Regions from separate parts of the Homo sapiens genome. Here regions 1 and 3 are each linked to region 2. The links come from fine-mapping of genetic effects on gene expression. A gene starts in region 2. Each other region holds a variant in brackets. All regions are shown on one strand. Distances are between the middles of the regions. Region 1 overlaps PLEKHH1 (pleckstrin homology, MyTH4 and FERM domain containing H1). Region 2 holds the start of PLEKHH1 (pleckstrin homology, MyTH4 and FERM domain containing H1). Region 3 overlaps PLEKHH1 (pleckstrin homology, MyTH4 and FERM domain containing H1).

What was found. PIP is the estimated chance that this variant, and not a neighbour inherited with it, causes the effect. A credible set is the group of variants that fine-mapping cannot tell apart.
Region 1: its variant is the best candidate, but not a certain one, in a credible set for the expression of PLEKHH1 in sun-exposed skin (GTEx, PIP 0.82).
Region 3: its variant is the best candidate, but not a certain one, in a credible set for the expression of PLEKHH1 in minor salivary gland (GTEx, PIP 0.63).

The regions. Positions count from the first base shown.
Region 1 is chr14:67,581,370-67,589,943 of GRCh38, forward strand. PLEKHH1 (pleckstrin homology, MyTH4 and FERM domain containing H1) reads left to right here. Exons shown (of 29, transcript NM_020715.3): 24 at 700-841; 25 at 2,372-2,514; 26 at 2,626-2,755; 27 at 4,199-4,285; 28 at 4,582-4,728; 29 at 5,705-8,243. The coding sequence ends at 5,866. PIGH (phosphatidylinositol glycan anchor biosynthesis class H) reads right to left here. Exons shown (of 4, transcript NM_004569.5): 4 at 7,949-8,574. It also overlaps a transcript of GPHN not described here. Among named protein-coding and RNA genes, the nearest start is that of PIGH, 15 kb to the right of the region's middle. RefSeq lists a silencer at 2,910-2,959. The variant T/C (reference allele first, on the strand shown) is at 5,716.
Region 2 is chr14:67,528,179-67,539,157 of GRCh38, forward strand. It overlaps PLEKHH1 (pleckstrin homology, MyTH4 and FERM domain containing H1), which reads left to right and starts at 5,112. Exons shown (of 29, transcript NM_020715.3): 1 at 5,112-5,220. It also overlaps a transcript of GPHN not described here and a transcript of TMEM229B not described here. RefSeq lists a silencer at 4,736-5,205.
Region 3 is chr14:67,560,567-67,571,545 of GRCh38, forward strand. PLEKHH1 (pleckstrin homology, MyTH4 and FERM domain containing H1) reads left to right here. Exons shown (of 29, transcript NM_020715.3): 6 at 1,388-1,469; 7 at 1,571-2,328; 8 at 8,572-8,650; 9 at 9,355-9,446. It also overlaps a transcript of GPHN not described here. Among named protein-coding and RNA genes, the nearest start is that of PLEKHH1, 33 kb to the left of the region's middle. RefSeq lists an enhancer at 10,901-10,979. The variant TCGTGTTC/T (reference allele first, on the strand shown) is at 6,572.

The sequences.
Region 1 (8,574 bases), 52 kb after region 2:
CAAAAATTAGCTGGGCATGGTGGCATGTACCTGTAGTCCCAGCTACTCAGGGGGGCTGAGGTGGGAGGATCACTTAAACCTGGGAGGTTGAGGCTGCAGTGAGCTGAGATCACGCCACTGCACTCCAGCCTGGGCAACAGAGTGAGACCCTGCCTCAAAAAAAAGAAAAGAATAGAAAATAGACCAACCTCATGGGATGGCTAAGTGTGTTACTTTATGAGAGTGAAATTTTGTATAAGCACCAGCTAGTTATAGCTAAAGACTAAGTACTTCCTATACCAATTCCAGGAAATACAGAAGTAGACATCCTGACTTTCTATCAATTTGAGTAAGAAAATCCCATCCCTCCATCTCAGTATGTCTCCAGGCAAATAGTTTCCAGTAGTCTCTTGGACTCTTACCTCATCCAGTCCCCTAATCTATAACTCCAGGTACCAGATTTCCCTTACTAAATCCAGTAAGCTTAATGGTATCTTCAGAATGAACCATGCCCTCCTGTTGGTATGAGATCAGCATGACCCTGCATCTGCTCTGTGTCATACTCGGTTATATGTTTCTGGAGGCAATACAAAATAGGCTCATAAATAGTGGGAAAAGAGTACTTTATCTTTTTGGAAATAAAGGTAACAGACCCAGAGAAAGCCCCATCCCTGTTTGGAATCCCTGCTGAGTCCTGGTTTCTTATTCTCTTCTTTGTAGGCTGTACTTTCGCAGTCAAGTCAAAGGGGAGACGGACCGAGAACGGCTGCTCCTTGCCTCTCAAACCAGTAGAGAGATAGTGGCAGGGAGGTTTCCTATCAACAAGGAATTGGCTCTTGAGATGGCTGCCCTGATGGCCCAGGTAAGGTTCTGTTCAGGAAGCAGGAGGGTCGGGTTGCCAGCTTAGAATGAATGCACCATGCAGCCTGAAACACAGGAGAGATTCTGCAGATCCTGTGGTGCTCAGGAGAGGGCAGCTTTGCCATCTCTGGGATGGAAAGCAGCTGACTTCTACAGATCAGAGCTCCTCACTCACCGCAGATATAGGATGCGTGCAGATGGCTGGACTTGGAATCCAGAGACCTGGGTTTGAGTCCTATATACCTTCCAACTATGAGGTCTTAGCCAAGTCACTTCACTTCTCTATGCTTTAGTTTCCTTCTCAGTATACCAAAATAAAAAATACTTGGCCGGGAGCAGTGGCTCATGCCTGTAATGTCAGCACTTTGCGAGGCCGAGGCGGGCAGATCACCTGAGGCCAGGAGTTCGTGACCAGCCTGACCAGTGAAACCCTGTCTCTACTGAAAAAAAATAAAATAAAATAAAATAAAAATAAAAATTAGCTGGGTGTGGTGGTGGGCGCCTGTAATCCCAGCTACTCGGCAGGCTGAGGCAGGAGAATCACTTGTACCTGGGAGGCAGAGGTTGCAGTGAGCCAAGATCATGCCATTGCACTACAGCCTAGGCGACAACAGCAAAACTCTGTCTCAAAACAAAACAAAACAAACAAACAAACAAAAACCTCTGCCAGCCTCCACAGGGTTGTACTAAGTATGATACCTGGATAATTGTATCATGTAATGTATGTGGTAAACTTCATAAACCATCAGACCTTCTAAGTAGACTTAGGAAGAGGAACACACATTCAGACTTGGACTCTCCTTCCCATTATATTTAGAAGGCCATCTTGCCAAAGGTATCTGGGATACCTTCATGACTCCCATAAGAGAGTCTGACACCTACTATATACCCACAAAAATTAAAAATTAAAAATTTTTAAAAAAGAATAAGAATCTGGATTTACATGCTGGAAAGGAAGAGGAAACAGTAATAGTTGATCTTTATAAATATCAATAGGAATACTCTCTAGGAGGCCCTGTACTAAGCATATATGCATCCTCCATTGTAGTTTTTATTCCCACCTAATAGATGAGGAAATTGAAGCTCAGAGAGTTTAAGTAACTTGATCAGGGACACAAAGCTGGGATTTGCGCCAGGTGTCCAACTCCAAAGGCCACATTTGGAACACTCTGCTGTACTCTAGGATCTGTAGCATCTTCAATTCTATAGCCCATATTTTTGGACTGGAAGCCAGAATTTCCACATTGTTTTCCCTTGTCGGCTACCAATTAACTGTGTCTTTGGAAAAGGCACTTCACCTCAGCTGCAAAATCAAAGTTGGTCGGTGATCTCTAATATTCGAGGGCCCTAAGTTTGTTTCTCTAGTGTCTATAAAACTTGAGATGAAGCGTTTTTCTAAAGTATTTTTCACAACCACTCGCACCCCACCAATAGGGTAATAAAGAAATGGTTTATTTCACCTCTCAACAGCCCCCACCTGGCCCATCCACTGTCAGATTTTGACTGGTCTCTTCATATGCTTCTACCACAGGTAGAATATGGGGACTTGGAGAAGCCTGCCCTGCCAGGCCCTGGAGGCACATCCCCTGCCAAGGCTCAGCATCTTCTCCAGCAGGTCCTAGACAGGTTCCACCCCAGGCGCTATAGACATGGGGCCCCCGCTGAACAGCTGAGGTAGGTAGGCTACAAGGTCTTGCAGCAAGTCACTGTGGGGAGGTCTCAGGCCTGGAATGAAGACACGTCGGCACTTCATTGGCACTATTTCTCTCCATCTGCCCACACCAGGCACCTGGCAGATATGTTGACCACAAAATGGGCAACATTGCAAGGATGCTCCCCTCCTGAGTGCATCCGCATCTACCTGACCGTGGCCAGGAAATGGCCTTTCTTTGGTGCTAAACTTTTTGCTGCTCAGGTAAGTGCCAGTGGAAGGAGCTGCCCACACCCTTAGGTGTGTCCCCAACTGCTCATGTTTGAGCCATACCAATTTGCAGCCCCTACCTCCATACCAGTAACCACCAGAGGTCACTATCCCTCCACTGTTTCTGGCCTAGTCCAGCTTTCCACAGTCCAGAGCAGAATTGTGATTGCTTATCTTCATTTGTCCTTTGTTGACTGCCCCAAAAGAAAAGATGTGATCAACTAATTCACACACACAAAGATTCAGACTTGAAATAACAGCCCTCTCAAGAGTGCTTTCATTTTTTTTAAAGTTTGAAAGAACAATGTATAACCTAAACAAATACATCTCCACTGGTTTGACATGGCATACAGGGGAATCAAATTACTTAGCCAACAGTTAATTTCACCTCTGTATGAAGGCCAGGTGGCCAACAGTAATTTCAGAAGGAACTTTTCTTCACTGGGTGTCTGTTGTGCATAAACTTTATAGATAATTACAGCTCAAAGCTGGGCAGTGATCCTGTTTACTGAAGCCACAGATCGGAAAATGGCCATTCATTCATTCAACAAATAGTTGAGCTCCTACTATGTCCAGTGCTGGTTGTTTGAGGTTATAAGAAGTGAGAAAATCAGACACAGTCCTTGCCTTCCTGGAGCTTCCCATCTAGTGCAGGAGATGTATATTCATCAAATAATCGTATTCATTTTTTTCTCTATGTATTTAATATATATTTATAAGCCATCACAAATGCTATGAAGATGTACAGAGGTGTTATAAAGGCATATAACAGGGACCCACTTGGTCTGGGAGCTTAGGAAAAGCTTCTGAAAAAGGTGGCATGTCCAATGTCTATCTGCCTCCCTTTGGGTTAAGAGAGAGATTTTCTGGATTACCATACTGTAGTCCTGGCAGTGAAAATTAGTCATTACAGGAATGTCCACTAAATAGTCACTTTCTTACTGATAGGGCCTAAAGCCACAGGACTGCATTCTTGCTTTCCTATTTCTTTTACAGCACCTAGGAGATTGGCTGAAGTCAGAAGCACTTCGGCTTGGAGACTATAGGTGGAATGCCGTGTTTCCAAGACTAGGAGAAAACCAGCTGTTCCCCATTCCCCTAACAGAGCAGCTAGGGCTGGCCTCTATTCTGTAGCACAGAGCTTTCCATCCAGTGTGCTGTGGCAGCATGGGTTCTAGGGACATCAAAAGAATGATCGCCTCTGCCTTTGAGATGGTTAGTAGGTGGCCAGAGCCCCAAGGCCAAGGGTCTCCTGTCACAAGCAGCCTTGTCTATTTCCTGCATACACTGTACAAATATCATCTTTGTTTTCCAAGATGAGGTGGCTGGAAATCACTGCTTAGCAGATCCCTGGATGTGCCTTCTTTCTCAGAAAGTTATTATAGTTCAAAATCTCTAACTATGGATATATCTGATGGGTTGTTTCTGTTTCCCCAGCCTGCCCAGCTGTCTTCCAAGGAGAACGCTCTGGTGTGGATTGCTGTGAATGAGGATGGCGTCAGCATCCTGGACCACAACACTATGGTATGAAAGGATGCAGGCTGCTCCCTGACCCCTCCTCTTCCTCAACATGGTCTTTTCTTCTCCTCTGTGGACTCAAAAGCCTGAACCAAGTGACCATGGCTGCCCTACCCCCACTCCTGCCCAAGCACCAGTCCTCTAGTCTAGACACTGCTTGTAGATATTCAAGATGGAGATCTCCAAATTATGACCACTTGGGAGTTCTCCTTTCCTGTGCCTAGAAGAGACAGGGGATGCTGGTTCCTAGCTCAGGGGACAGGTGGAAAGTTTCCCCACAACTGACTGGTTCCTTTCCACAGCAAGTGCACATCACTTACCCCTACTCTTCAGTGACAACGTTTGGTGGCTGCAGGGATGACTTCATGCTTGTGATTAGATCTATCCCAGACAAGAGCTCTGGAAAAAGCCACATTGAGAAGTTGATCTTCCGGATGGCTGCTCCCAAGGTAGGTCTGACAGCTGTTAAAACGTTCTACTCTGGCAAGATGTGGTGGGCTTGGAGCTTAGAAAGGAAACTGGGGTTATGCTAGTGCTCTGCAAGGGCCCTGCCCAGATAAAATTGTTGGTCTTGTCTGTAATTAGTATTCCAAAGGTTCAGGTGGTGTTGCATCTCCGTATCAATGTTCAGCTAGTAGGTAAAGGGACATATTTGGAGGGAACTAACTCTGGCCTAGCTACTATTATGCTCTTCACTTTTTCTTTTTTATTCTCTCAAGCCCCAGCATCATGCAGTCCTCAGTTGGGTGCTTACGTGCTCTTCTCTTCCTTGCAGCAGTCCTCAAGGCAGGGCAGATTCCTCTTTAAGGTGCTCGCATGTTACCCCTGGGTTCTGCTGACCCAACATTAGCTACAAAGTGGGACAGTCCCACAGTGCTCCCTCTTCCTTGTTGTGGGGAAGACCGCAAAAAGACCTCTTTTGCTTTAGTGACTTTGTTCCTACTCAATACAGGAAGTGTTGACCAGCAAAAATAATAATTACAAAGGCTAAGTTCTGATTTATTGTTCCTGACTCCCGTGTGATTAACTGGAAACCCTGTTGTTCTCCTTTTTAATCCTAAAGTTAGAGTTTGCCAAACCTACTCCTCCTTTAATACCACCCCTGCTAAAGGGGAGGATCTCCAGATCCCTTTCTTAAGAAGGCCCCTTCCCTGGTTGTAGAGCTAACCAGAGCAGAACACTGGGCCTCCTTTTCTCAGAAGGGCACTGTGCATCTGAGAGGATCTCCAGACCAACAGGAGCCCACACCACTGGGCCTCTGAACAGCACAGTTATGATTCCCTTTGGATATTTTCTCCCAGGTGGGTATTTTAAGAGATTAAATAAACTGAGGCCCAGGAACTCAGCATAAGAGCTAATAAGTAAGAAAGCCAGGATTCAAGCCAAGGCTAGTTCAATTCCTTCACATCTCTGACCTCCTCTTAGATTGCAGAAGC[T/C]ACCTTCATCATGGCCAGCTATATGAACCATTGCACTACAACTGTGAACCCCCCCACCAACCCACCCGGAGCCTGCCAGCTGTGGGAACTGGATGGACGACAGTTCTTTTCTTCTGTTTCCTGTGCTACCAAGGGGCCAACGTTGCTGTGAATATTTCTCCTACCCGATTCCCCAACACCACTAGTGCCTCTGGATTTAGAGATATATATCCTAGGGTATGATACTACTGTGACGGGTCTAACAGCCCCCGGCTACTCTTGTTCTGTGAAATGTGTATTTTAGTCTCTGTGAAGCCTTTACTCTCTAGGTGCCTTATAATGTTTCAGGGCTCAACTTTTTAAAATCCAGACCCAGTGTTAAAACCATTTATTCCTTTTTTCATAAGAATAATGACTCCAGATGCTACCTGATTCTAGACATAGACAGGGATGATCCACTGTTACTGAGGGCATCAGTGCTATAAGTTAAGGCTTTCTGCACTGGTACTCTCAAGGAAGCTAATTTTCTTTCTGGGGGGGGCGGGGGACACAGTGTCACTATGTCACCCAGTCCACAGGGTTCAAGCAATTCTCCTGCCTCAGCCTTCGGAGTGGCTGGGATTACAGGTGTGCGCCACCATGCCCGGCTAATTTTTGTATTTTTAGTAGAGACGGGGTTTCACCATGTTGGCCAGGCTGGTCTCGAACTCCTGACCTCAGGTGATCTGCCCACTTTGGCCTCCCAAAGTGCTGGGATTACAGGCATGAGCCATCGCCCAGCCCAGAAGCTAATTTTTTAATATTGTATATGGTCTTATTTATACTTGAAGTTTTGTGAACGTCGCTAAACAGGATAGGACTAAAATTTCCAATTCTCCTACACTCTGTCAGAAGCCTAGAACTCACTAAACTGGGCTGCCTTTCCCAAATGGGAAAGGTGCTGACAGAGTTGGAGAAAAAAGAATAGACTCATTTTTCCCCATTATTGGTATGTAGGCATTGGTACAGCCCCTTCTGGGGCAGTCTTTGCAGGATAACATGCTATACCTGCTAAGATTCAAGCTGTTTTCCTCACACTGGACTTTAGGCCAAACCCAGTACCACGCAATGTGCAAGCAAGGGCAGGAGGTAGGTCCAATCTGACCCCTCCCTGTCTCATTTTAATGACTGGACAGCGCTCGGTGAAGGCTGTGTTCACTGTAGTGGGCCATCATTTGTTTCCTTCTTCTTGTAAAAGACCAAGCAAATGCACTCTGCTTTTTGCTGCTGTAAGACCACCAAAAATGAGTCAGAAACACAGAAGACTATTTCAGGCATGTGGGCCTGGATATGCTCCTTGAGACTTCTGGCAAACTTCTGCTGGGAATTAGTTTGAGGGTGAGGGTACATATGTGACATTTGCCCTAGCCTAAGAGTAGCAGGTAAAAAAAAGTTTCTTTCATCTTTTGCCTTACTGATAATACCATAATCCCCCTCAATTCAGACCTTCTGATTGAGTGCAGAGGAGACTAGACAGTCTCCTCTAGACAGGTTGTAGACACACCCTCCCCTAACAAAAACAAAACGAAAGAGTTCATACTCTGATTTTCCAACATCTAGGAAACTGAGTTTTATTTCCTAGCTCTAAGGCAGCCTTACTATATGTCAGTAAAGTGCTGAAAACTGTATATTTAGCAGTAGCACCCAAAACCAAGCCTTTAACCCCAACAATGTGTGTATCTTTTGCACAGCAAAAACTGCGAGGCCAGAACTAGTTTATCTGAACACCTCAGCTGCTGTAAGCTTCTCCTCTCTCACCCCGTAAACTGACAAGCATGATGAAAAAAGAAGCACATCCAAGTTTCTGCCTCTTTTAAATGTACTTGACTTTGCAAGGCAAGTAGTTTTACAGCCATTTCTGTTCACACTTTTCACCCCACAACTTGGGGATCTAGCTGAGACATTTCTACCTCGAACAAGTCACATGTACCACAGGTTCCTGAATAATTCCTGCAGGGCTGGTGACAGACATAACAGCTCTGGTTTTATAATATCTTGGGTATCTCTAAGGCCAATAAGGATAACATTATCTACCCAGAGAGTTTAGAAGAAAAGTAGGAGTCCAAAGGAAGAGTAAACAAGAATGGAGCTGTGTTCACACTGAATTTGGGGTCAATCTATTTCCCCCACCCTCTCTCCTCCCCAACCCTTCAGGAACCCTTTAGTTTATTAATCTTATACAGAAGAAACTAACTTAGAAACAAAGGATTCAATATTTGCTTATTTATTCTTTGTTAACATGAGAGTCCCATGTCTGAAAACCAAAGTCCAATTTCTGTCTGGCCTTTTGTCTCATCCTTCTTGGCAAAAGTAGCTTTTGAACTGATATAAAAAAAAATGCTGAGTAACAGAAAAGTATTAATGTGCTTGACACCATGACTGAAATACTATGATCTTGTTTGTCAATAAAAAGCAGCTATCTGTGAACCAGGTAACTGTGTGTTTTGGAAGATCTGTTTATTAACAGTAAATAAATAAGCCCTGTACAGAACACAGGCACTAGGTTGACAGACTCGTCTTTTGTAGGACATTTCTTCCTGCTAACCAGTACTGAAGGGCTTGTTTTTTTCGTAACTTTACACAAGGGGTACTATTGGAAAATATAGCTTTCTCAAGACATCTGATGTCAGTTTCCCATTGTTTTGCTTCACAAACATCAACAAAGTAAACCTGAACATGCTTAGCAATTTCCGAAAGTGTTCTTTGCTGACATTACTTTTGACATACTGTGTCAAAATTCTTAAGGTCTCCCCTCCTTTGGTAAAGTAGGCAAAACCTTACAAGGAAAACACTATAATACACGGAAATATACTGAGTTAGATTTCCAGTCACCTGCTCTAT
Region 2 (10,979 bases):
AATAATAACAACCAGCATCTACTGAGTACTTACTGAGTGCCAAGAACTGAGCTAGGTGCCAAAGCTGGAATTTGAACTCTGGAAGTTGAACCCCACTGTCAGCATGAAAACCCATTGTCTACAGCGGCCACACATGTGTCCCAGAAAAGTAAAGGGTCACTGGCAGCTCTCTGACAGGCCTGGGTTTCCTTGGCTTCTTGGAGCCCTAGTCTCTCCCCACACAGGCTCCCTGGGCTGTTGGAGAACCTGCCACCTACTTAAAGCTGGTCCCTGCCCAGTTCCTCCCTCCCCCAATTGATGTGAGCAGCCATTGTTCTCATCTTTGATGAAAGCTGTTGGAGAAATAAGACAGCTGCTTTAAAACTAGGATGTTGCAAACTCTAAAATGATCTAGAATTGCAGTCAGATGGCTGGATTTACCTGATCCTCATTCCCTGAGCTCCACCAGCTCCCAACTCAGGTGCTCTTTCTCCCTCCCTCTCCTGTCCCTATCCCATTAAGCCCCCATTCACCTGGCTCTCTCTTGCCCGTATAACCCGCAGCTGCAGCGGACAGAGCATTTTGCATTGATATGTGTTGTAATTACATCAGTTCCGCCCTGGCAGTTGCTCTCTGAGAAAAATCACTCAAGGGCATACCAGTCAATACAGACCCCAGACAGGTGCGTGACAATGCAGACTCCTGGGCCCACTGATCTGAATAGCTAGAGGTGGCCTGGAATCTGTATTTTCAGATCAGCATTTTAAGACATGAGGTTAGATTTGGAATCACTGCCCACCTCCTCATTGGAATCCTTCTCCACCAGGCCCTCCTTCCATGCTGCTCCTCCTGGGTACTTTCCAGCTCCCTAGTCTTTGGGCGCCTTGCTAGTCCTTTACACCTCTACACCTTCAAGTTCCCTCCTCATTTCATAATATTTACTAGATTCCAATAATATGCCAGGCACTGAGGCAGGCCCTTTATCTCCATCTTTATAATAACTCTCTAAGGAAGGAATTCTGATTCCTGATTTACAAACGAGGAACACCTTCCCTCCCCTCCCCATCCGCTGCCTGGCTCTCTCTGGCTCCCATACCCACAGGTATACTGAACAGATTATTTGCAGTGAATGTATGTGGTAACTGCATTACTTCCACCCTGTGTCCCCTGGGTGGAAGAGCCAGGATTCAAGGACAGGCATGTCTAGTTCTAAAGCCTGTGCCCAGAGTTGATAGGTCACACTTGCCACACTTTCCTTCCTAGCACAGTGGCTGGAAAATAGCAAGTATTCAATAGATATTTGTTAGTGAGTAACTGAATGAATAAATGAAAGAAGAGTCCATACTTAAAGTTAGGACACTTCCTCCCATCTTTCCATACCCATCTCACATGCACACATATACACGCTCACACACACACTGAGGATTTAGCCACTGGGCCATTTCCTTTCCTTCCTAACTGGCCCTTCTCTGCATGTCCAATCACTGCCTTCCTAGCCCCACTTAGATGGTGACTCTTGACACTCTGCTCTAACCCATGGTTACCTCACCTCTCATGTCCCATGGTGGCTAATCCTGACAATCACCGAAGAGCCAAATTGCTCCCAAAGATTCAGCAGTAGAAGTAACCTCCTGACTTCTTTGTGACCCAAGGCAGAGAGCAGAAGCCTGGACTAGGACTGGCCCCAAGTTTCCTGGGAGTCTGAAACTCCCTTCTCCTTCTTCTCCCCTCTCTTCCCCTTCCAACAGTAACTGAGAACCAGGTCCTGAAGGCAGGAGGAGGGGATCCCTTGATTTGAGGCTTTTTTGGTGATATAGGAGAGGGTCTCTTTGGAGCTCAGAGAAAGCAGGTAGGGATGGGAAGCAGGGTTTCTAGAAGGCTCGTACAAGGGAAGATGAATTGTCAACCATTTCACCAGCTCTCCTAGAGTTATTCCTGTCTCTCAAGCCATCTGCTTATCCATTGCAATCTTGTAAACAGAGATTTACAAGATCTCTCGTAAACTCCAGCCAATATTTGTTCAAAGAATAAATAACAAAAGCTTCCATTTATAGATCACTTGCTGCATGCCAGACAACATACTATCTCATTTAATCATTTCAACAACCCTAAGAGGCCAGAATTATTATCATCATTATTTTACAAACATGGAATTAATTCAGAAACCTTAAGCAACTGCCCCAAGGTCCCACCACCACTTAAGTGATAAAGCTTAAACTGAGCTCTGGCCAGTTCCAAGTTCCCCTTTCCCTCCCATAGTGCTGTCCAAGGAACAAGGCCCAGACTAAGATGCTGTAATATTGACTCTGTAGGAATTTATTTTTTAAACATTCCAGCCTAAACCATGTAGTGTGTGTATATAAAGTGACTCTCCTGTAACTCCTAGAGTGGTTAGTTAGCATCTGAAGTGCCCTAATCAGGAATCCGCACTCCAGAAAATGGTTACATAAGCACTTCAAACAACATCAAAATATACACCCAAGGGCTTAATGTGCTTGAGGGATGCTAGAAATAATCTTTTATTGGTGAAATAAGCAGTTTTCAAAACATGGAGTTGGCCAGGAAGATTATTTGCCCTTGCATGAATGGAGTGTGAGAGCCAGAGCAGGCCAACTGCCCCATTTTCTTGAAGCAGGCTGTGTGACTGTTTTGTGCCAGCTTGCCAATACATGTATATTTGGCAGAATTTGGCCTTAACTATTTTTAATATCCCACCTGCAGGAGATTACAGAAAAGAAGACGAATGGCCTCCTCTCACCTCTCACGTCCCATGGCAGCTAATACAATCATTGAAGGACTAAATTGGCTCAGACCAGTTGACAAGTCCCCATCCCGGCCTCATCTTCTTTCACAAGAATGCCCTAGCATATCCTTCAACTCAGGCACATGATGGCTTTTCTTCCCATCTCTCTGTTCCATCCTCCATTCTCCTTTGTCAGGTCACTTGTAATAATAAGCTAATATCCAAAGAAAGGGGCTCTAGGGGTGATGGTGGGTATTATAGTCCCAGCTACCTGGGAGGCTGAGGCAGAAGGACTGCTTGAGCCTAGGAGTTCTGGGCTGCAATGAGCTATGATTGCCACTGCATTCTAGCTTAGGCAACAGAGCAAGATCTTATCTCTTAAAAGAAAACAACAACAACAACAAAAGTTGTAACTTGCCCAAGTCACATAGCTAAAAAGTGGAAGAGACATAACTGAAACTCAAGCCTCCTAAATTCCTAATGTAGGGTTCAGTCCACCTCTACCACCCTCCCACAGACTGCCAAGGGGTCCTGCTCAGAGTTGGGCAATGGTGAGATGCACTCTATGGCCCCAAACTCATTGAAAGTAACAACTGAGCTGAAAAAAATGTGGAGTCTCTTCTGCCCTCTACAGAAGTAACCAGCTATAGGGGAGAGCATGCTCCTCCCATTCCACTCTCCATGGTGCGTCTCTTTTCACTATATAACAAAGTTATATTAAATGAGTTCTGGGCCGAGGTGCGGTGGCTCATCCCTGTAATCCCAGCACTTTGGGAGGCCGAGGCAGGAGGATTTCTTGAGTCCAGGAGTTTGAGACCCCACCTCTACTAAAAAAAAAAAAAAATTTTTTTTTTTTTTTTTGCTGGGTATAGTAGCATGTGCCTATAGTCCCAGCTGTTCATGAGGCTGAGATGGGAGGATTGCTTGAGCCCAGGAGTTCAAGTTACAGTGAGCTATGATTGTGCCACTGCAATCCAGCCTGGAGAACAGAACAAGAAGAACCTATGTCCAAAAAAAAAAAAAAAAAAAAAGTGAATGAATGAATTAATGTCTTCTTAGCAAAATCCAGAGAACGTGTTTTTGGGCTTCCTTATGCAACTTCTGGAATGTTGAAGTGGATAGCCTGAGCATTGTCCCACAAAATGGGGCTAATCTATCCCAATCCCCACGAGCTATAAAGCTGTTTGCAAGTTCAGCCATTGAAGTCCCATTGGCCCAGTTAAATTCTCACGTTTGGCCTCCTGCACTACCAGCTTTCCTTAGTGTCTGGGCTCTCAAAACTTCTACGTGAGAATGGCCTGGGGTACTTTAGTTAGAGATTCAGATTCAAACCCAGGGTGGGGGTGTTCTTCATGGTGCCTGGGATGAGTCTTCCAAGGACCATTTGGAGAAACAGGCGCTGATGGTATTTTGCTTCTGTTCAGTCCTTCACTGACAGAGAGCCTGCAGGGTTGAGGAAGAAGGCTCTGTTTTGAAGTGTGGATCCCTCCCTGCAATGGTCTCTATTTGCATCTTCTTTACTCCAGGCTCACCTAGCCAAATGTTGAGTTTTCCAACCCCTCTGGGTATGAGATTGCTTTGGGCGATCTGAGATCTGCAAATGTCTGAGAACGAGGAGCACATGGGCACGCTGATGACTGCCCTGCAAACTGCCTGGCAGCCAGGGTCCTCCTGGGCCCTCCTTTAAAATAACATATACATAAGCCGGCCTGGAGGCCCAGGCGGGAAGATCACTTGAGCTCCGGAGTTCGAGTCCAGCCTGGGCAACATAGCGAGACCAGAAAATAAGCAAGTAAGTTACTCTCTGGGCTGTCGTAACTTATTTTTTCTTTTTCTCCTGCAAATTGCAACTCAGAACATTTGGTCTGCCAGACTGAAATATGGACTTCTGTTCCAAATATCCAGACGTTACAGTTCCCACAGGTGGCCAGGAGAATGCTGGAACCTTTGGCGGAGACGGTCTGGTCTTGTCCCGCAGCCCGCGAGGGTCCCCCGCTATTTGGGGTCAAGCAGATCCCCGGGGCGCTCTGGCCACCCCTTGCGGCAGCTGGTGCGGCCTCCTCGGAGAGCTCCGGGCCGGCGCCCGGGACACCCCGCCGCCCTCCCTGCCGCCCCAGGGACGAGCCCAGCGGTGCGGAGAAGTGGGAGGCTGGAGCCTGCTGAGGTCATTTCCTGTGCCTCTCCGCGAGCTGCCTGGAGAGCTGAGCCCAGCGCTCTGCCTTTAAGGAGCGGGCGGGGAGCCGAGGGGAGGAGGGCGCCCGGCGGAGCGTTGAATGGGGCGCAGCAAGGCTCGGCCGGGCTTTGTGCAGCGAGCCCGCGGGCACCCCTCCCGCTCCAGCCTCGCCCCGCCCCGCAGCCCACGACCCCTGCTGCCGGGGAGGGGAGAACCGGCGGCAGCCCGGGACTCCGGCGAGAGCGACGCAAGGTCGGCTGCGGCGGCGGCCCGAGGGCGCCCGTGTGCCCAGTGCGCGGCGGGGACGGCCGCGAGCTCGCTGGAGGTGAGCGACCCGCGCTCCCGCCGCTGTGGTGGGCTGGGGCTGCGCCGCGGCGGAGGGCGTCAGGCTGCGCGCGGGGGACGGCCCCTCGGGCCCAGAGGACGATCCGGAGCAGGTGCCTCCCTACCTGGAAGCGAGCTCCCAGCGGCGGGGAGCGCTGGAGCGCGGGTCTGGCTTGGGAAGCCGGGCGCCCCAGGGGACTCGCGCCGCGAGGCCAGGAGGAGCCTCCCCCGGGAGTACCTGGACTTGGGGATCGGTCAGATCCAGCCGCTCCTGGGAAGGGCCCTCGGAGCGGACGTGCAGGCTGCCACCTTGCTATCGGTGCTCGCTCCCTTTCACCCCTTCCCGCACCCCTCCCCATCTCACCTCAGGTTATTTCTTCTGTGATTTCTGAGTGTTGTCTTTGGGACCCTATGGCTCAGGCTCGACTCCTAGGAGCAGGTCATTCAAGCAGAAAAGAAAACAGGTTGGGCGCCGAATGACACAGAGCATTGTGTCCTAGGAGTCTTAGCGAGGACTCGGTCACCAGGAACCAGGGGCCTTAGTGGGGGTGGCAGAGGCGGTGAAGAGCCTCATCTGGAAGGAAACTCCTCTCCTTGTGGGATTTCTGCTTGCCAGGATATCTCCTCCATAGCTTTTACTATGAATCCACCTCATAAAACTCTTCCAAGACAGAGCCTTGGTTCAGGTAAAACACTTGAAAGACCATTTAAAAAATTCAGTGGGAGAATTATCAGTTCCTTCATCAAACTGTTTGGACTGTCTTCTATGTGACAGACACTGTGTATAGGGCTAGTACCATCACTGAACGCTTTATAGAACATCGGTATTAGTGTTTCTGCATATTATTGGCCCCATTTTTCCAAAGGAGGAAGCTGGGACTCTGAAAAGTTGTGATTTAGGCCAGTTGCAGTGGCTTATGCCTGTAATCCCAGCACTTTGGGAAGCCAAGGCAGGAGGAGAGCTTGATGCCAGGAGTTCAAGACCAGCCTGGGCAACATAGGGAGACCCTGTGTCTACAAATAAATAAAAATTTAAAAATTAGCTGGGTGTGGTGGTGTGGGCCTGTAGTCCCAGCTAACTTGGGAGGCTGATGATCCTGTCTGTTAAAAAAAAAATTGTTGTGATATGCCCATGGTCACATAGCTAAAAAGTGGAAGAGCCATAACTGAAACCCAAGCCTCCTAAATTCCTAACGTATGGTTCAGTCCACTTCTACCACCTTCCCATAGACTGCTGAGGGGGCCTGCTCAGAGTTGGGCAATTGTGGGGTGCAGCCTGTGGCCCCAAACTCATTGAAACTAACAACTAAGCTGAAAAAATGTGGAGCCTCTTCTGCCCTCTTCAGAAGTCACCAGCTGTAGGGGAGAGCATGTTCCTCCCATTCCTGATAGAAAAAAAAAAATCCAAAGAAATGTCTGGCAATTTAAAGTGTACATCATTTACCCCTAAATTCCATTTTCTGGGACTTTATCCTTCAGATATACTCTGATGTATATGAAATGGTGTACATCATTGAATATTCATTGCAGCATTGTTTAGCAAAAGGTTGGAAACAATCTAGATGTCCATCAATAAGGAACCCTTCAATAAGATCATGTAAAAGCCACACGATAGGATACATTAAAGCTGTTATAAAGCGTGCAGAGAAAATGTGGCAGATATATACTTTGATGTAGGAATATCTCTAAGTTATATTGTTGAGTACAGTGTGTATGGTGGGCCACGATTTTTGGGTGGGTGTGTGAATGCCACATACATATGAATGCCTGTAGATGCTCTGAATATCTCTGAGAGAACACACAGAAACCTGTAACAGTGGTTGCCGCTGGGGAGAACTATGGCTGAAGTACAGGCATGGGAAGAAGCCTTACTTTGCACTATATACCCTTTTGTTCAATGTTCTAAAATAACTTTAAAAATCATATGACCTCCTCTCCAGATCTCCAGAGTTAGATCTGGTAGTGAGCACATCTTTTTTTTTTTTTTTTTTTTTTTTTTTTGAGCCAGAGTCTCGCTCTGTTGCCCAGGCTGGAGTGCAGTGGTGCAATCTCAGCTCACTACAACCTCCGCCTCCAGGGTTCAAGCAGTTCACCTGCCTTAGCCTCCCAAGTGGCTGGGATTAACAGGCATGCGCCACCACACCTGGCTAATTTTTGTATTTTTAGTAGAGACAGGGTTTCACCATGTTGGCCAGTCTGGTTGAACTCCTGACCTCAGGTAAGCCGCCTGCCTCCACCTCCCAAAGTGCTGGGATTACAGGCTTGAGCCACCGTGCCCAGCCTCGTGAGCACATCTTTGGGCCACATCTCCTTTTATGTTCTAGATGCTATTGGTTTGCCTTTGTTTGCTGATTACAACAATAACAGTCATTTATTGAGTACTTAGTGTGCACCAGGCTTTTGTAATATCTCCTTTAATTCTCAAAAAGCCCTGCATGATGTGATATATGAAATGGCCATTTTGAAGGTTGGAAAATGGTTAAATGACGGTTTCATATGGTTCAACCAAATATTATTGTCCTGATTTTCAAATATTACTGCCCTCAATTTCAGAATGGAACTGAGTCTCAAAGAAGTTAAGCAAATGGCTTAAGGCCACAGGATTATTTAGTGCCTGAGCTCGTATTCAAACCCAGGCCTGTCAGTGCCAGAGCATGGGATCTTAGGTACTAAGCTGTTTCTCTTTGCTGTTTTTGTTCTCAAGGAATGTTGTACCTGGTTGTCCTGACCACTTCTTTTGGTATTGAGGTTCCTGCGGCCTAGGACATGCTCACCTTCTCTGTCTCCCCGGACATTGTGTGGAATGTCATGTAGGCACCCAGCAGTGGCCAAATGGATGTTGTTAGCTTGATCAGATGACAGTGCTGAGATCAGAGGAAGTTGTCCCTGTGTACACTCACACCCTTCTCCCAGCCTCATCCCCAGAAACGGGACACAAAGCTGTTTCTCTCCCACAATTGACAAGTAGTCAGCCACGTCTGGCAGAGCACTTTTAGAAGATGGTGGTAGCCCCTCACTAGCAAGTGGAAGTCATACAGATACTCACACTCAGGGAATGAACCATACTGAGGCAATATGAGAGAGCCCAGTGGAAACTGTGCATATAACAGAAGCCCCGTTGCCTTCCAATGCCTCCTGCATCCTCCACAAGATAGAGGCAATGAGCTATTTTGAGGCCTGTGGTGACCTCTGACCTCTTTCTTTTAGGGTCCTGTATTGATTAGCTACCTTTGTAGGGAGCTACCAGGATATTCAGGCTGTAGACTTGAGCCTCAAAAGCCACAATATCTTTATTCATCTTTATATCCCCAATCTTGCACACAGGACTCACTTAAAAGTTGTTTGTATTAAACTTAATCTTGGGGTCGGGAGTGGTGGCTCACGCCTGTAATCCCAGCACTTTGGGAGGCCAAGGCAGGTGGATCACCTGAGGTCAGGAGTTTGACCAGACTGGCCAACATGGTGAAACCCTGTCTCTACTAGAAATACAAAAATTAGCCAGTGTGGTGGCATCCGCCTGTAATCCCCGCTACTCAGGAGGCTGAGGCAGGAAAATTGTTTGAACCTGAGAGGCGGAGGTTGCAGTGAGCCGAGATTGCACCATTGTACTCCAGCCTGGGTGACAGAGCGAGACTCCATCTCAATAATAATAATAATAAAATAAAAACTTAATCTTAGGCTGGGTGTAGTGGCTCAACACACTTTAGAAGAATGAGGCAGGTAGATCACTTGAGCCCAGGAGTTCGAGACCAGCCTGGGCACCATGGTGAAACCCTGTCTTTACAAAAAATACAAAAATTAGCCAGTGTGGTGGCATCCACCTGTAATCCCAGCTACTCAGGAGGCTGAGGCAGGAGAATTATTTGAACCCGGGAGGCGGAGGTTGCAGAGAGCCGAGATTGCACCATTGTACTCCAGCCTGGGTGACAGAGCGAGACTCCATCTCAAAAATAATAATAATAATAATAATAATAATAATAATAAAAACTTAATCTTAGGCTGGGCGCAGTGGCTCAACACACTTTAGAATAATGAGGCAGGTGGGTCACTTGAGCCCAGGAGTTCGAGACCAGCCTGGGCACCATGGTGAAACCTTGTCTTTACAAAAAATACAAAAATTAGCCAAGCACAGTGGTGCACGCCTGTAGTCCCAGCTGCTTGGGAGGCTGAGGTGGGAGGGTCACCTGAGCTTGGGAAAGTTGTGGCTTCAGTGAACCATGATTGTGCCACTCACTCCAGCCTGGGCAACAGAGTGAGACCCTGTCTCAAAAGAAAAAGAAAAAAAAGTAATCTTAGCATTTTGTCAGTTTCTGCTCAAAATCCTCAAACTTGCCAGAGAGATCCCAGGTCAAATTTGTGTTTTCTCTGATACAGACTCTGAGTCTGGAGTCACCTAATGACTTCCTGTGCCACCTTCCCACCCATCCTACTCCCAGCCCCTGCCTCTGGGGCATATCCCCACTGACTGCTGTGGCATTTCAGTCCCGGGTGTTGGAGGATTCAGGGGATGCCAAAGCAGGTATCAAGACTATGGCAGTTTTTTGATTCACCTGCCAAGCAGTTTAGCAGGCTGGGTGCCAGCAGAATCAAGAAAACTATGAGTTTCATAAGACTGGCCAACAGCTGATCGTAATTTTAGCGGGGTATTGGGGACAGAGGGACTTATTGTACTATTCTCCCTATTTCTAATGTGTGATAGAGCATTCCAGAATAAAAATAGAAAAAAAAATTGAGCTGAGTTTTGTTTCCAGCTCACTTCCCCTCTCTCATTTCCCCATTTATTTTTTGCCATTAATGTATTTGTGTTAGACTAGCCTGTTAGTATGAGATATCTGCTACCACTACTGAAGCATCATCATGGGAAGAGGACAATTGTAGATATTGGGAGATCAGGATTCTTGGCCCAGTTCTGCTACTCCTTAGCTCTATGCAAGGCTCTAAGCAAGTCACAGATGTGATGAGTTTTCTCATCTGTTCATTGTGACTAATTGTGTTCGTCCTCCATCTCAGGGATAAAGAGAGAAATAACACATGCGTCGCAATGCTTTGACAAGTTACAAACTCTACTGCAAATGTAAGGTATTCATTTCTGCTCATCCTTGTGCATTTTTATGGGAGGTATAAGTGCAAGGTGACTTAGCAGGTGAGGCTCAGCTTACTGGTATCTTCCTTTAACCTCCCTTATTTTATAGCTGTTGCTCTGACCACCTGCTTCTGTCAGAAGAGCCTCTGGGCCTTGGGTTTGGCAGCAGGCACCCTGCTCCTGATCTATTTCAAAACCTCTCTGCTCTCCTCACATGCTGAGGCAAGCCAAGCACGAGTCCCAACCTCCTCAGCAACTTGCCAGGGAGAGGGTGGTTAATCCTCTCCATCCCCAAGGCAGGGAGAGGATTAAACAGACCACTTGATCAGTTCAGAACCATGATGTTACGGAGATGCTTGATTGGGGAAAGCATTCCCTAAACTAGGTATAATCTCAGATATCAGGGCTAGGCAGACACCAGTGACATATTTCCAAAGTACTTGGAGATTTTGATAATTTGGGTTTTCACTCTCCCAATAGAATCTGAGCAGCAGCTTTGACAATCAGTAAGAGGGAATCAATATTAATCAAACTCTTTCAACTATACAAAGGGATTACATTTCCCTTGCCCCTTGCTTTTATGCTTTTACTGTTATTTCTTAGCCCTGAACTGAGTTGCGAGACTCCCAGGTCCTAGTCTCAGATCTGCCACTTTTCCTATTTATACAAGGAAAAGC
Region 3 (10,979 bases), 32 kb after region 2:
TCCCTCTCTATCTATCCATTTTTGTAGTTTATCACGTGCTGTACCTTTATTTAGGAAACTCAGGACTTGAAGCTACAGTGCTATCACCAACAGACAGAAAACAACCTCCTTCTAAATAAAAGGAGTGGGAATTGCAGTTTGGAAAAGGATGAACATATATCTTTTTTTTTTTTTTTTTTTTGAGACGGAGTCTCGCTCTTGTTTCCCAGGCTGGAGTGCAATGGCACAATATCGGCTCTCTGCAACCTCTGCCTCCTGGGTTCAAGCAATTCTCCTGCCTCAGCCTCCTGAGTAGCTGGGATTACAGGCACACGCCACCACGCCTGGCTAATTTTTGTACTTTTGGTAGAGACGGGGTTTCGTTATGTTGGCCAGGCTAGTCTTGAACTCCTGACCTCAGGTGATCTGCCCGCCTCAGCCTCCCAAAGTGCTAGGATTACGGGTGTGAGCCACCACACCCGGCTGACAAACATACATCTTTTCCTCTGTCCTCACACAAGTGGTTCACACCTGCAGGAGGGTATCAGCTCATTTGGCCTCCTATCCCCTTCTTTGGATGTACATCTCAGGTCACCTGCTAGACTGCAAGTTCTTGGAGACAGAACTGATGCCTGGCTTACCTGCGTATTCTCACAGTCCCAACCCTTGCTAAAAGATACTCAATAAAAGTGTGTTGGACTTAATTTAAAGGAAAATGCAGGCTGGGGGCAGTGGCTCACACCTGTAGTCCCAGCAGCACTTTGGGAGACCTAGGCGGGTGGATTGCTCGACACTAGGAGTTTGAGACCAACCTGGCCAACATGGCAAATCTCTGTCTCTACAAAAAATACAAAAATTAGCCGGGCATAGTGGCGTGCACCTGTAGTCCCAGCTACTCGGGAGGCTGAGGTGGGAGGCTAAGGTGGGAGGATGGTTTGAGCCCTGGTGGCAGAGGTTGCAGTGAGCCAAGATTGCACCACTGCACTCCAGCCTGGGTGATAGAGCCAGACCTTGTCTCAGAAAAGAAAAGAATATGCAGCAGCCACGCTCAGTGGCACATGCCTGTAATCCCAGCACTCTGGGAGGCTGAGGTGGGCAGATCGTTTGAGTCCAGGAATTTGGGACCAGCCTGGGCAACATAGCGAGAGCTTGTCTCTACAAAAAAATAAACGAAATTAACTGGGCCTGGTGGTGTGTGTCTATGGTCCCAGCTACTCAGGAGGCTGAGGTGGGAGGATCAGTTGGGCCTGGGAGGTCAAGGCTGCAGTGAGCCAAAATTGCTCCACTGCAATTCAGTCTGGCCAACAGAGCAAGACCCTGTCTCAAAAAAAAAAAAAAAAAGAATTGAAAAAATACATCTAAACCTGTAGGCTGGGTGTCCTAAATCTTCATTTTTCTTTTTGCTCAGCTTGAGATGGAGAATCAGCATCTGAAAAGCCATAATCAGCGCCTGGTGGAGCAGGTGGGATCCCTTCAAGATGCGCTAGAAGGTAGGCAGGCCAGGGTGTGCAGGTGTGCAGTACGTGTGTTTGGTGGGTATGGGGCTGAGCTACGGGAGCTCTCAATGTGACTGTTTTTACCCGAATCACAGCTATTCAGATAGCTCCTTCACGGAAGCTGCTGGTGCCCCCCTACGGAGCTGCAGAGCAGGATTCTGTCCCTTCAGAGCCGGGAATCCAGCCTATGGGCCAGGACAGTGGCTCCCAGGCCCAGGGTCTGAAGGCAGCTGTGCTTGCACCTTCCCCAGGTGCCCTGCAGAGCAAGGACTCTGTTTCTGAAGCAGCAAGCCCCTTGGAGGATTCTAGTTCCAGCACGGTCCATTCTGGGGAAACAGTAGAGGCCAAGCCCCTTCAACCTCATCTGGGAAGAGAGAGCCCTCCCCACCAGCCATGCATGAAGCTTCTTACCTTCAGATGTAGTTCAGCTTCCTGGGGTGAGGGTCTGGTTACTGCTCAGAGAGGGATGCTCCCTGGGACAAAGACCTCTGCCAGGGAAGGTGGTCCTGGCAGCAGTCTGACCCTACCAAAGGTGCGGGCTCCTGGCACCCCGCGGGACAGCATCCAGTTGGCCAAAAGGCACCACAGCCAGCCCCAGGTGGGCCATGGGCACTTTGGCCGTGTGGTGAACATTGAGACTGAGGCCTTCTCAGCCCTCCACCCCTCTGGCCTTCCTGAGCTGGAGTCCCGAGCTAGGTCCCGGGAGGAACCAGAGAAGATGGAGATGGAGGAGCCACCCCCAGCAGGGAAGAATGAGGAAAGAGAGAGCCCAAAGGCCCTTGGAGCTGAGCTGGAGGAAGTGGAGCTGGGTAACAAGCCACCTACACCCCCGCTGCACCAGTTTTCATCCTGGGTAAGAGGCAACCTCCGGGCTGGGCAGAGGAGCAGAGCTAATGGCAAGAACACTGCTGGCTGAGCACAGCCATGCACTGAGCAGGAGAGGAGGCTGCTGGCATCCTCATGGTGGCCCTGGCAGGCAGGTACCATGGAGCCTGTGCAGACCACACAACCAGTGAGGGTCAGCGCCAGAATTCAGAATGATGTGAATGGCGGTTGGCTGTCATTTCCTGAGTGCTCACCGTGCACCATACATTGAGCTGGGTGCCCTGCATACCTTTTCTCATTTAATCTTTGTGAGTCTTTCAGGTGGTCTGGTATGATGGTCAAGAGCATAGGCCCCAGAAGCAAACCACTAGGGTTGAACTGTTAACTACGTGACCTTGGACATGTTACTGAACCTCTGTGCCTCAGCTTCCCTGTCTATAAAATGGGGATAATAGTACCTACTTTATAGGGTTGTTGTGAAAGTACTTACAGTAGTGGTTCACAGTAGGTGGTAGGTAAGTGTTGGCTATTTTTCTTTCTTTGTTTTTCTTTTTCTTTTCTTTTTTTTGGGGGGTGGGGGTGAGGGGGCAGAGTTTCACTCTTACTGCCCAGGCTGGAGTGCAATAGCATGATCTTGGCTCACTGTAACCTCTGCCTCCTGGGTTCAATCAATTCTCCCGCCTCAGCCTCCCAAGTAGCTGGGATTACAGGCATGCACCACCACGCCCAGCTAATTTTGTATTTTTAGTAGAGGCAGGGTTTCACCATGTTGGTCAGGCTGGCCTCAAACTCCTGACCTCAGGTGATCCACCCTCTTGGGCCTCCCAAAGTGCTGGGATTGTAAGTATGAGCCACTGAGCCTGGCTTTTTTTTTTTTTTTTTTTCGAGACAGAGTCTTGCTCTGTCACCCAGGCTGAAGTGCAGTAGCACGGTCTCGGCTCACTGCAACCTCCGCCTCCCAGGTTCAAGTGGTACTCCCACCTCAGCCTCCCAAGTAGCTGGAATTACAGGTGTGTGCCACCATGCCCGGCTAACTGTTTTTTTTTTTTTTCTGAGACAGAGTCTTGCTCTGTTGCCCAGGCTGGAGTGCAGTGGCACAATCTCAGCTCACTGGAAGCTCTGCCTCCCAGTTTCACGCCATTTTCCTGCCTCAGCCTCCCAAGTAGCTGGGACCACAGGCACCTGCCACCACGCCCGGCCAATTTTTTGTATTTTTAGTAGAGACGGGGTTTCACCATGTTAGCCAGGATGGTCTCGATCTCCTGACCTCGTGATCCGCCCGCCTCAGCCTCCCAAAGTGTAATTTTTATATTTTTAGTAGAGTCGGGGTTTCACCATGTTGGCCAGGCTAGTCTCAAAGTCCTGACCTCAAGTGATTCACCTGCCTAGGCCTCTCAATGTGCTGGGATTATAGGCAACTGCGCCAGGCCAGCTTCCTTACTTGTAACATTGGATAAAATGTCTTGATATCTGTCTGGTAGAAATACTTCAGAAGCAATGATCTGGTTGGTGGCCAAGGGTGGGGACACAGATGAAGCATGACTGGCCACACATCATTAACCTTTGCCAAGCTGGGCGATGGGCACGTGAGATCATTCTTTTTTTAACTGAGACAGGGTTTTACTCTGTCGCCCAGGCTGGAGTGCAGTGGCGCAATATTGGCTCACTGCAACCTCTGCCTCCTGGGCTCAAGCAATCCTCCTACTTCAGCCTTCTAAGTAGCTGGGACTACAGGCATGCACCACCATGCCTGGCTAATTTTTGTATTTTTAGTAGAGACAGGGTTTCACTATGTTGGCCAGGCTGACATTTTTTTTTTCTTTTCCTTTTTTTTTTTTGAGACAGAGTCTTGCTCAGTCTTGCCCAGGCTGGAGTGCAATGGTGCAATCATGGCTCACTGCAGCCTCAACTTCCCGGGCTCAAGCAATTCTCCCACCTCAGCCTCCCGAGTAGCTGGCACTACAGGCATGCACCACCATGCCCAGCTATTTTTTAATTTTTTGTGGAGATGGGCTAACACTATGCTGTTGCCCTGGCTGGTCTCGAACTCCCAGGCTCAGGTGGTCCTCCCACCTTGACCTCCCAAAGTGCTGGGATTACGGGTGTGAGCCACTGTGTCTGGCCCTGTACCTGACATTTTCCATGATAAAAAGTTAAAATAAAAATGAGACAGGCTATAAAAATGACATTTCACAGGTCACTAGTGAAAATGGCATGTGGGTATTAAGGGCTTCGCACGGAGCCTGTGGGAAGGGCTCCTTTCCTTGCAAGGAGTAAGGTGTGGTTTCTCCCTTTTACAGGTCAGGAAACCACTGTTCCCCACAGACTTAGGTACTTGCCCAAGGTCATGTAGTAGTTAGTGAGGGAGCCAGGCTTTATTTATTTATTTACTTGAGAGACGGTGTCTTGCTCTGTCACTCAGGCTGGAGTGCAGTGGCACAATCACAGTCCACTGCAGCCTTGTACTCCTGGACTCAAGGGATCTTTCCACCCCAGCCTTCTGAGCAGCTGGGACTACAGGTGCACACCACCACACCTGGCTAATTTTTTAAATTTTTTGTAGGGATGGAGTATCCCTATGTTGCCCAGGCTAGTCTCAAACTCCTGGCCTCAAGTGATCCTCCTTTGTCAGCCATAAGAGCCACCTTACCCGGTCTGAGAGCCAGGCTTTAAATGTAGTTCCAGCTGCTTTGAAGCCCAGCTCTCACATTCCAGCTGTACTTCCTCTTAAGGGACATTGCCAGAGCTAAGGTCAGTCTTTGATTCATGGGCAGACATCCCCTCCACAGATGCTGCTGGGGTGTGTAGCAGTACCATGGGGGACAGCTAAGCGTTGGCTCCTGGCAGCAGGAGGAATGAGGTCACTTGGGAGAGGGGGTGACATCAGGGTGGACTCACCCCACACCACTGCTCGGGAGACCTGTATTTCCAGCAGTAACTCCCAGGGCCTCCTTTTGAAATGCTGGTTCAAATCCGGGCTCAGTAGCTTATGCCTGTAATCCCAGCACTTTGGGAGGCTGAGGCAGGCAGATCACTTGAGGTCAGGAGTTCGAGACCAGCCTGGCCAACATGGCGAAACCCCATCTCTACTAAAAATACAAAAATTATTTGGGCATGGTGGTGCACGCCTATAGTCTGGCTGCTCGGGAGCCTGAGGCAGTAGAATCGCTTGAACCCAGGAGGCGAAGGTTGCAGTGAGCTGAGATTGCGCCACTGCACTCCAGCCTGGGCGACAGAGGAGACGATCTCCAAAACAAAACAAAGAAATGCTGGTTCGGGAGGCACACAGCCCTAGACTTTTGGGCTATATCCTTGGCAGTGACTGTTGATCAGCTTCTGGTTGTTTCAAGGACACCTGTAAGACTGGAGACCCAGTTGAGCCAAGAGTGGGGCACATCAGGAAGACTAGGGGATGGAAAAGCACTGGTCCCCCTGGGCTGCTGGCTCTCTTCTTGCTCTGGAGTCCAAATGCAGAGGTTGGGAGCAGGAAGTAGTCAGGCAAGGAATGTGCAGCTGCTACCAGAGAGAAGCGTTGCTCACTTTGCCATTTTGCCAAAATACAGCCATTCACTGTGATAGCTTAAGAGTAGGTCTTGAGCCGGGTACAGTGGCTCACACCTGTAATCCCAGCACTTTGGGAGGCAGAAGCAGGTAGACTGCTTGAACTCAGAAGTTCAAGACCAACCTGGGCAACACGGCGAAACCCCATGTCTACCAAAAAAGATACAAAAATTAGCTGAGCATGGTGGCACATGCCGGTAGTCCCAGCTACTCAGGAGGCTTAAGTGGAAGTTAAGTTTGAGCCCAGGGAGGTGAAGGTTGCCATGAGTCAAGATCTTGCCACTGTACTCCAGCCTGAGTGACAGAGCCAGACCCTGTCTTGAAAAAAAAAAAAAAAAGAGTGGGTCTTCTCTATCTGAACAGGTTAAGTGTATGTGTGTGAGAGAGAGGGTGGAGGAGGAGAGGAGGAATGGGGAGACGAGGAGTTATTGTCTCCTCTTATTCTGTATAGAAAATATATCAGATGACGTTCTCCCCAGGAACCTCAGCTGAACTCTGGTGATGAAGGTATTAAGGGGATTAAGGTATTAAGGGGCAGCGTCAGGTCTTCCCACAGAACCTCCCTGCCCCCAGCTAGGCCCCAAGGACCCAAGAATCAGCCAAAAGAATGTAAGGAGATCTCATCCTGTTTGCAATCCCCTTTGTAACTTGCTCCTGGGGAAAACAAGACACAATGCTAGCTCCTTCCCAGGCCCCTGAGGCATGATCAC[TCGTGTTC/T]CGTGTTCCGGGGAGAGCTTAAGAAATCACAGTGGCCAGAAGCCCAGCCTCTCTCTCTCCCAGGCAGGACCAATGGGGCAGTAACCATCTGGGGAGGGCGGTGGGGGAATGAAATGTCAGAGAACATTTCTCAATCTGACGGTGTGAGAAATACTTATGTATCTTAGAGTTTGGAAAGCCCTTTTTTCAGTTAATCCTTAAAACAACCTTGTGAGTTAGGCATTAGATAACATTTTGTCAAACAGTCATAGGTTTCGTTTTACCTAAATCCTTCAAACTTCAGTTTCATTTCCTCTGCAAAGTTAGAGGCTTGTCCTTGGTTAAATTCCATGACCACTCTGGGCAGAAATAATCCTTTTTATGCCGAATTTTACTTGGGCTCGATGTATCTGCCCTACACGAGCACAGAAACTCCCTGCCCTGCTGCAGGGCCCTCCTTGGCATCCTTCCTCACCGCCCCTCTGTCTCCTGCCGCCCCTCCAGTGATCTCAGCGTCTCATGGCAGCACTCATCAGCTCTGCCCTCTCTCCTCCCAGTTGTCCCAGGGCTGCTGCTCCCCTCTGGGATGACACCCTGATAGGCACCCACCTCCCTTCCAATGCCATCTCCTAGCCCATCTGACCCCACCAGGTGACAGCACATCTAGCTACCTCCCTGAGCCAACAGGGCATTCCTCCAAAGGCTGGTCAACCTTCCCTCGTCAGCCTTGGTGACTCACGTCACCTTTGTTTTCCTTTAGGCTCAGTGGAGCAAACAGATCCAGAAGGTGCAGGGAACCCTGTGGGTTGTTTATGAGCAGTCAGGGCCATTAGGAAAAGCTCCTTTGGCCTGTGGCCTACTTCAGACCCAGGGGCCCCCTCAGGACGGGCATTCTCCCAGTGTCTTCTGCATGGGGGTGCTGGAGTCCTGTTGGGCTAAATAGGCTTTGTAGATTGGCCCTGAAGCCTAGCCATGATATGACATTATTCCTGCAGGGGAAAAAACGTGCCCTAAGTTCCCACATATGTTCATCACAGCACTACTCACAATAGCAAAGACATGGAATCAACCCAATGCCCATCAATGGTAGACTGGATAAAGAAAATGTGGTACATATACACCATGGAATACCGTGCAGCCATAAACAGGAATGAGGTCATGTCCTTTGCAGGGACATAAATGGAGCTGGAAGCCATTATCTTCAGCAAACTAACGTAGGAACAAGAAAACCAAACATTGCATGTTCTCACTTACAAGTGGGAGCTGGACAATGAGAACACATGGACACAGGGAGGGGAACATACTTAGTGGGGCCTGTCAGTGGATGGTGGCGGTGGGGGAGTATTAGGGAAAAGAGCTAAAGCATGCTGGGATTAATACCTAGGTGATGGGTTGTTAGGTGCAGTAGACCACCATGACACACGTTTACCTACATAAAAACCTGCACATCTTGCATACGTACCCTGGAACTTAAAAAACAAACAAATTATTTTTTAAAAAAAGAAACAATAGAGAATTTTTTAAAAATGTGCCCTAAGTTCCAAACAACTGGCTTACAAAAGAGCCCTTGTCGTGTGGCCGCAGTGGCTTCCTCATTACCAATATCCCCAACTTCTGGGGGTTAGATCTTGAGACCCAAGGGTCTCTAAAACGGGTAGGATTCAGAGCAACAGTTTACTGACCCATCTTCTCTTGAACCTCCTTTGCCCCAAAGGTGAAGGGTGGAGGCAAGAGAGGGAACTGTTGGGCACTGATTATATTCCAGGTGTTAAATGCTTATGTTAAGTATTTCATTGATTCTCACAGCAGCCTGAAAGGTAAGTATTATTACCTCCATTTAGAGCAGAGGAAAATGAGTCTCAGAAATGAAGTAACTTGCCCAAGATTTGTTAGCCAGTCACTGCCCCCCACAGGTCTGCCCACCCCCAAAGCCATGCTTTTTCCTGCACATGCCTGGAGGGGGTGGGATGGGCATCATGCCGGGCCCTGAGCTTCCTGAGACCTCTTGTTTCAGGAGAGCCGGATCTATGCTGTGGCCACATCGGGCATGCGGCTCTCAGATATGTCTCCCAGAAGTAATACTGCATGCTGCGGTGAGTTCCAAGTGAGGCTTGGAGGCACCAAACACCCAAGGTGGGCAGGGTGGGCAAGCGGGGAGGAGAAGACTCCAAGCAACACCCAGGGCCAGGGTTGGCTGGCCTACCCTGTTCCCCTCCCCAGCAGGTGAAGTTCAGGTGAAATCACAGCAAGTCCCACCTAGGAGGGAAAGGGAAGTCGTACAGGTTCAGCCCATCACAGGAAAGTAGCCAGTCACAGAGCTGGAAGGGATCTGAGAGGGGGCCTCCAGCCCAGCCTCCCACCTGCACAGGCTTCGCTTCTGCAGTGCCAGGGCCGTGGGTGGGAGGAGCCACAAGTGTCCTGATTTACATGAACCCCACTCACTGGCTCCTCTCCAGCCAGCCACCAAATCTCCACAACGAGGGCTGTGGGGTGGTCCCATAGCCGTATGATTTGTAACTCACATCTGCAACAGTGGAACACTGTGCAAGCCTCATGGAGGAAAAAATGGTTAAAGGTAAGGCTTTTGGATTCTTTTGTGAGGGATCCTTTACCACATGGAGATCATGGTCCCCAAAGGGAGTCAAGGGGAGAAGATGAACAGGGCCCTGGCCCCCCTCTTGAGATCTGTCACTGGCCTGCTCCTGGAGGGAATGCCATCTGCCCAGTTCTCTGCTTCCCCCACACCCCTTCCTGGGTTATGCCCTTGAGTAATCTCATTCCTCTCTTCCCTGCTCAGCTTCAAGCCCTCCTGCCCTTGTTTCCCCTGGGTCTTTCTCTGGCCTGGTCTACAAGAATGTCACTGTGCCTGTCTACACAGCACTGAAGGGGGTAAGAAACTGCTGCACAAAGAGGGGGTGTCTCATCAGGAAAGGCCCCTGGCCTCATCATCCAATGACTGGGGCGGGGCTCTAGGGCCAGGCTTCTGCACATGGTGACCCTGCCCAGGGAGCTGAGCCCAGCACGTGTCATTTTGTTTTATTGTTTATTAGGTTATTATAAAAATTCCACATTTACAAAAATGTGAATCAGTATGAACGTGGACAAGGTAAGAAGGTTAAGCCTATGCCCGCTTTACAGCTCTCCCCACCTTTTCTCATGTCTGCCTCACTCCTCAGGTCCCAGAGGGCAGTGGGGCTCCTTCTAGAATTACTGAGGTATATTCCAACTTATATTCCCGTAACGTCACTACATTTTAAAAACAAAAATCAGATAGAATTGCAATATTTTCATACACATTTTTGTCTCTGTTACTGGTTTTTGAATAATAGTAATACTTGATAAAATTTTTTATAGAAGAATAAAAAACCAAAAGTGAAATTTCCTCTCACGTCGCTTTTCCCTAATTCCTAAGCCCAGAGGAAGCTATCATGAATGGTTTAGTGTTTATTCAGTAAGGCCTTCCGATGCATTTATAAATATGCAGCACACTCTCACTGTCTCCTGTGTGCACACAAAAGGTGCTCATATACATGTCATTCTATGCCTTGCTTGTTCCCCTAACCACGTGAATAACCACGTGTCAGGTCATCCTTCCCTACCTCCTCCTTTTTATTTTTCCGAGACAGAGTCTGGCTCTGTTGCCAGGCTGGAGTGCAGTGGTGCAACCTTGGCTCACTGCAACTTCCACCTCCTGGGTTCAAGCGATTCTCCTGCCTCAGCCTCCTGAATAGCTGGAACTACAGGCGCGCACCACCATGCCCAGCTAATTTTTGTATTTTTAGTAGAGACGGGGTTTCACCATGTTGGCCAGGATGGTCTTGATCTCTTGACCTTGTGATCCGCCTGCCTCAGCCTCCCAAAGTGCTAGGATTACAGGCATGAGCCACCATGCCTGGCCCCTACCTCCTCCTTCTATAGGTGTCCAGTACCCTTGGTATCGAAGCACCATAACTATTAATACCTAAAGCTTTCCTCCAATAATAATTTAGTCTGTGTCCCTGTTTTTCTCTAAAATGAATGTTGCCATGAACATCACTGTGCACATATATCTTTGGGAACTTATATCTACATGTGTCTGTAGGACAGAGTTCTAGAGGTGGGATTTCTGGGCAAATTATATACATGTTTTAATTTTTGACAGGTACTGCCAAATTACCTTCTAAAAATGCCTTACACACTAGAGTTTTTTCCCCCATCTTCTCCCCATACTCTCACCAACACTGAGATAGTCAGTCACTTTAAATGTTTGCCAATGGAGATGCAATCATTGATTGTTGCGACGTCCCCACACATTTTTAAAGCTCGCATGGCACACTTAGTCTGTGGTGTAGCTTTCTGGCCCCCTAGTGGCAAGGAGCGAGGGTCACAGTGGGCAGGCATTCAGTCGTGATGGGCAGCTGCTTTGGGGACCACAGAAGATGG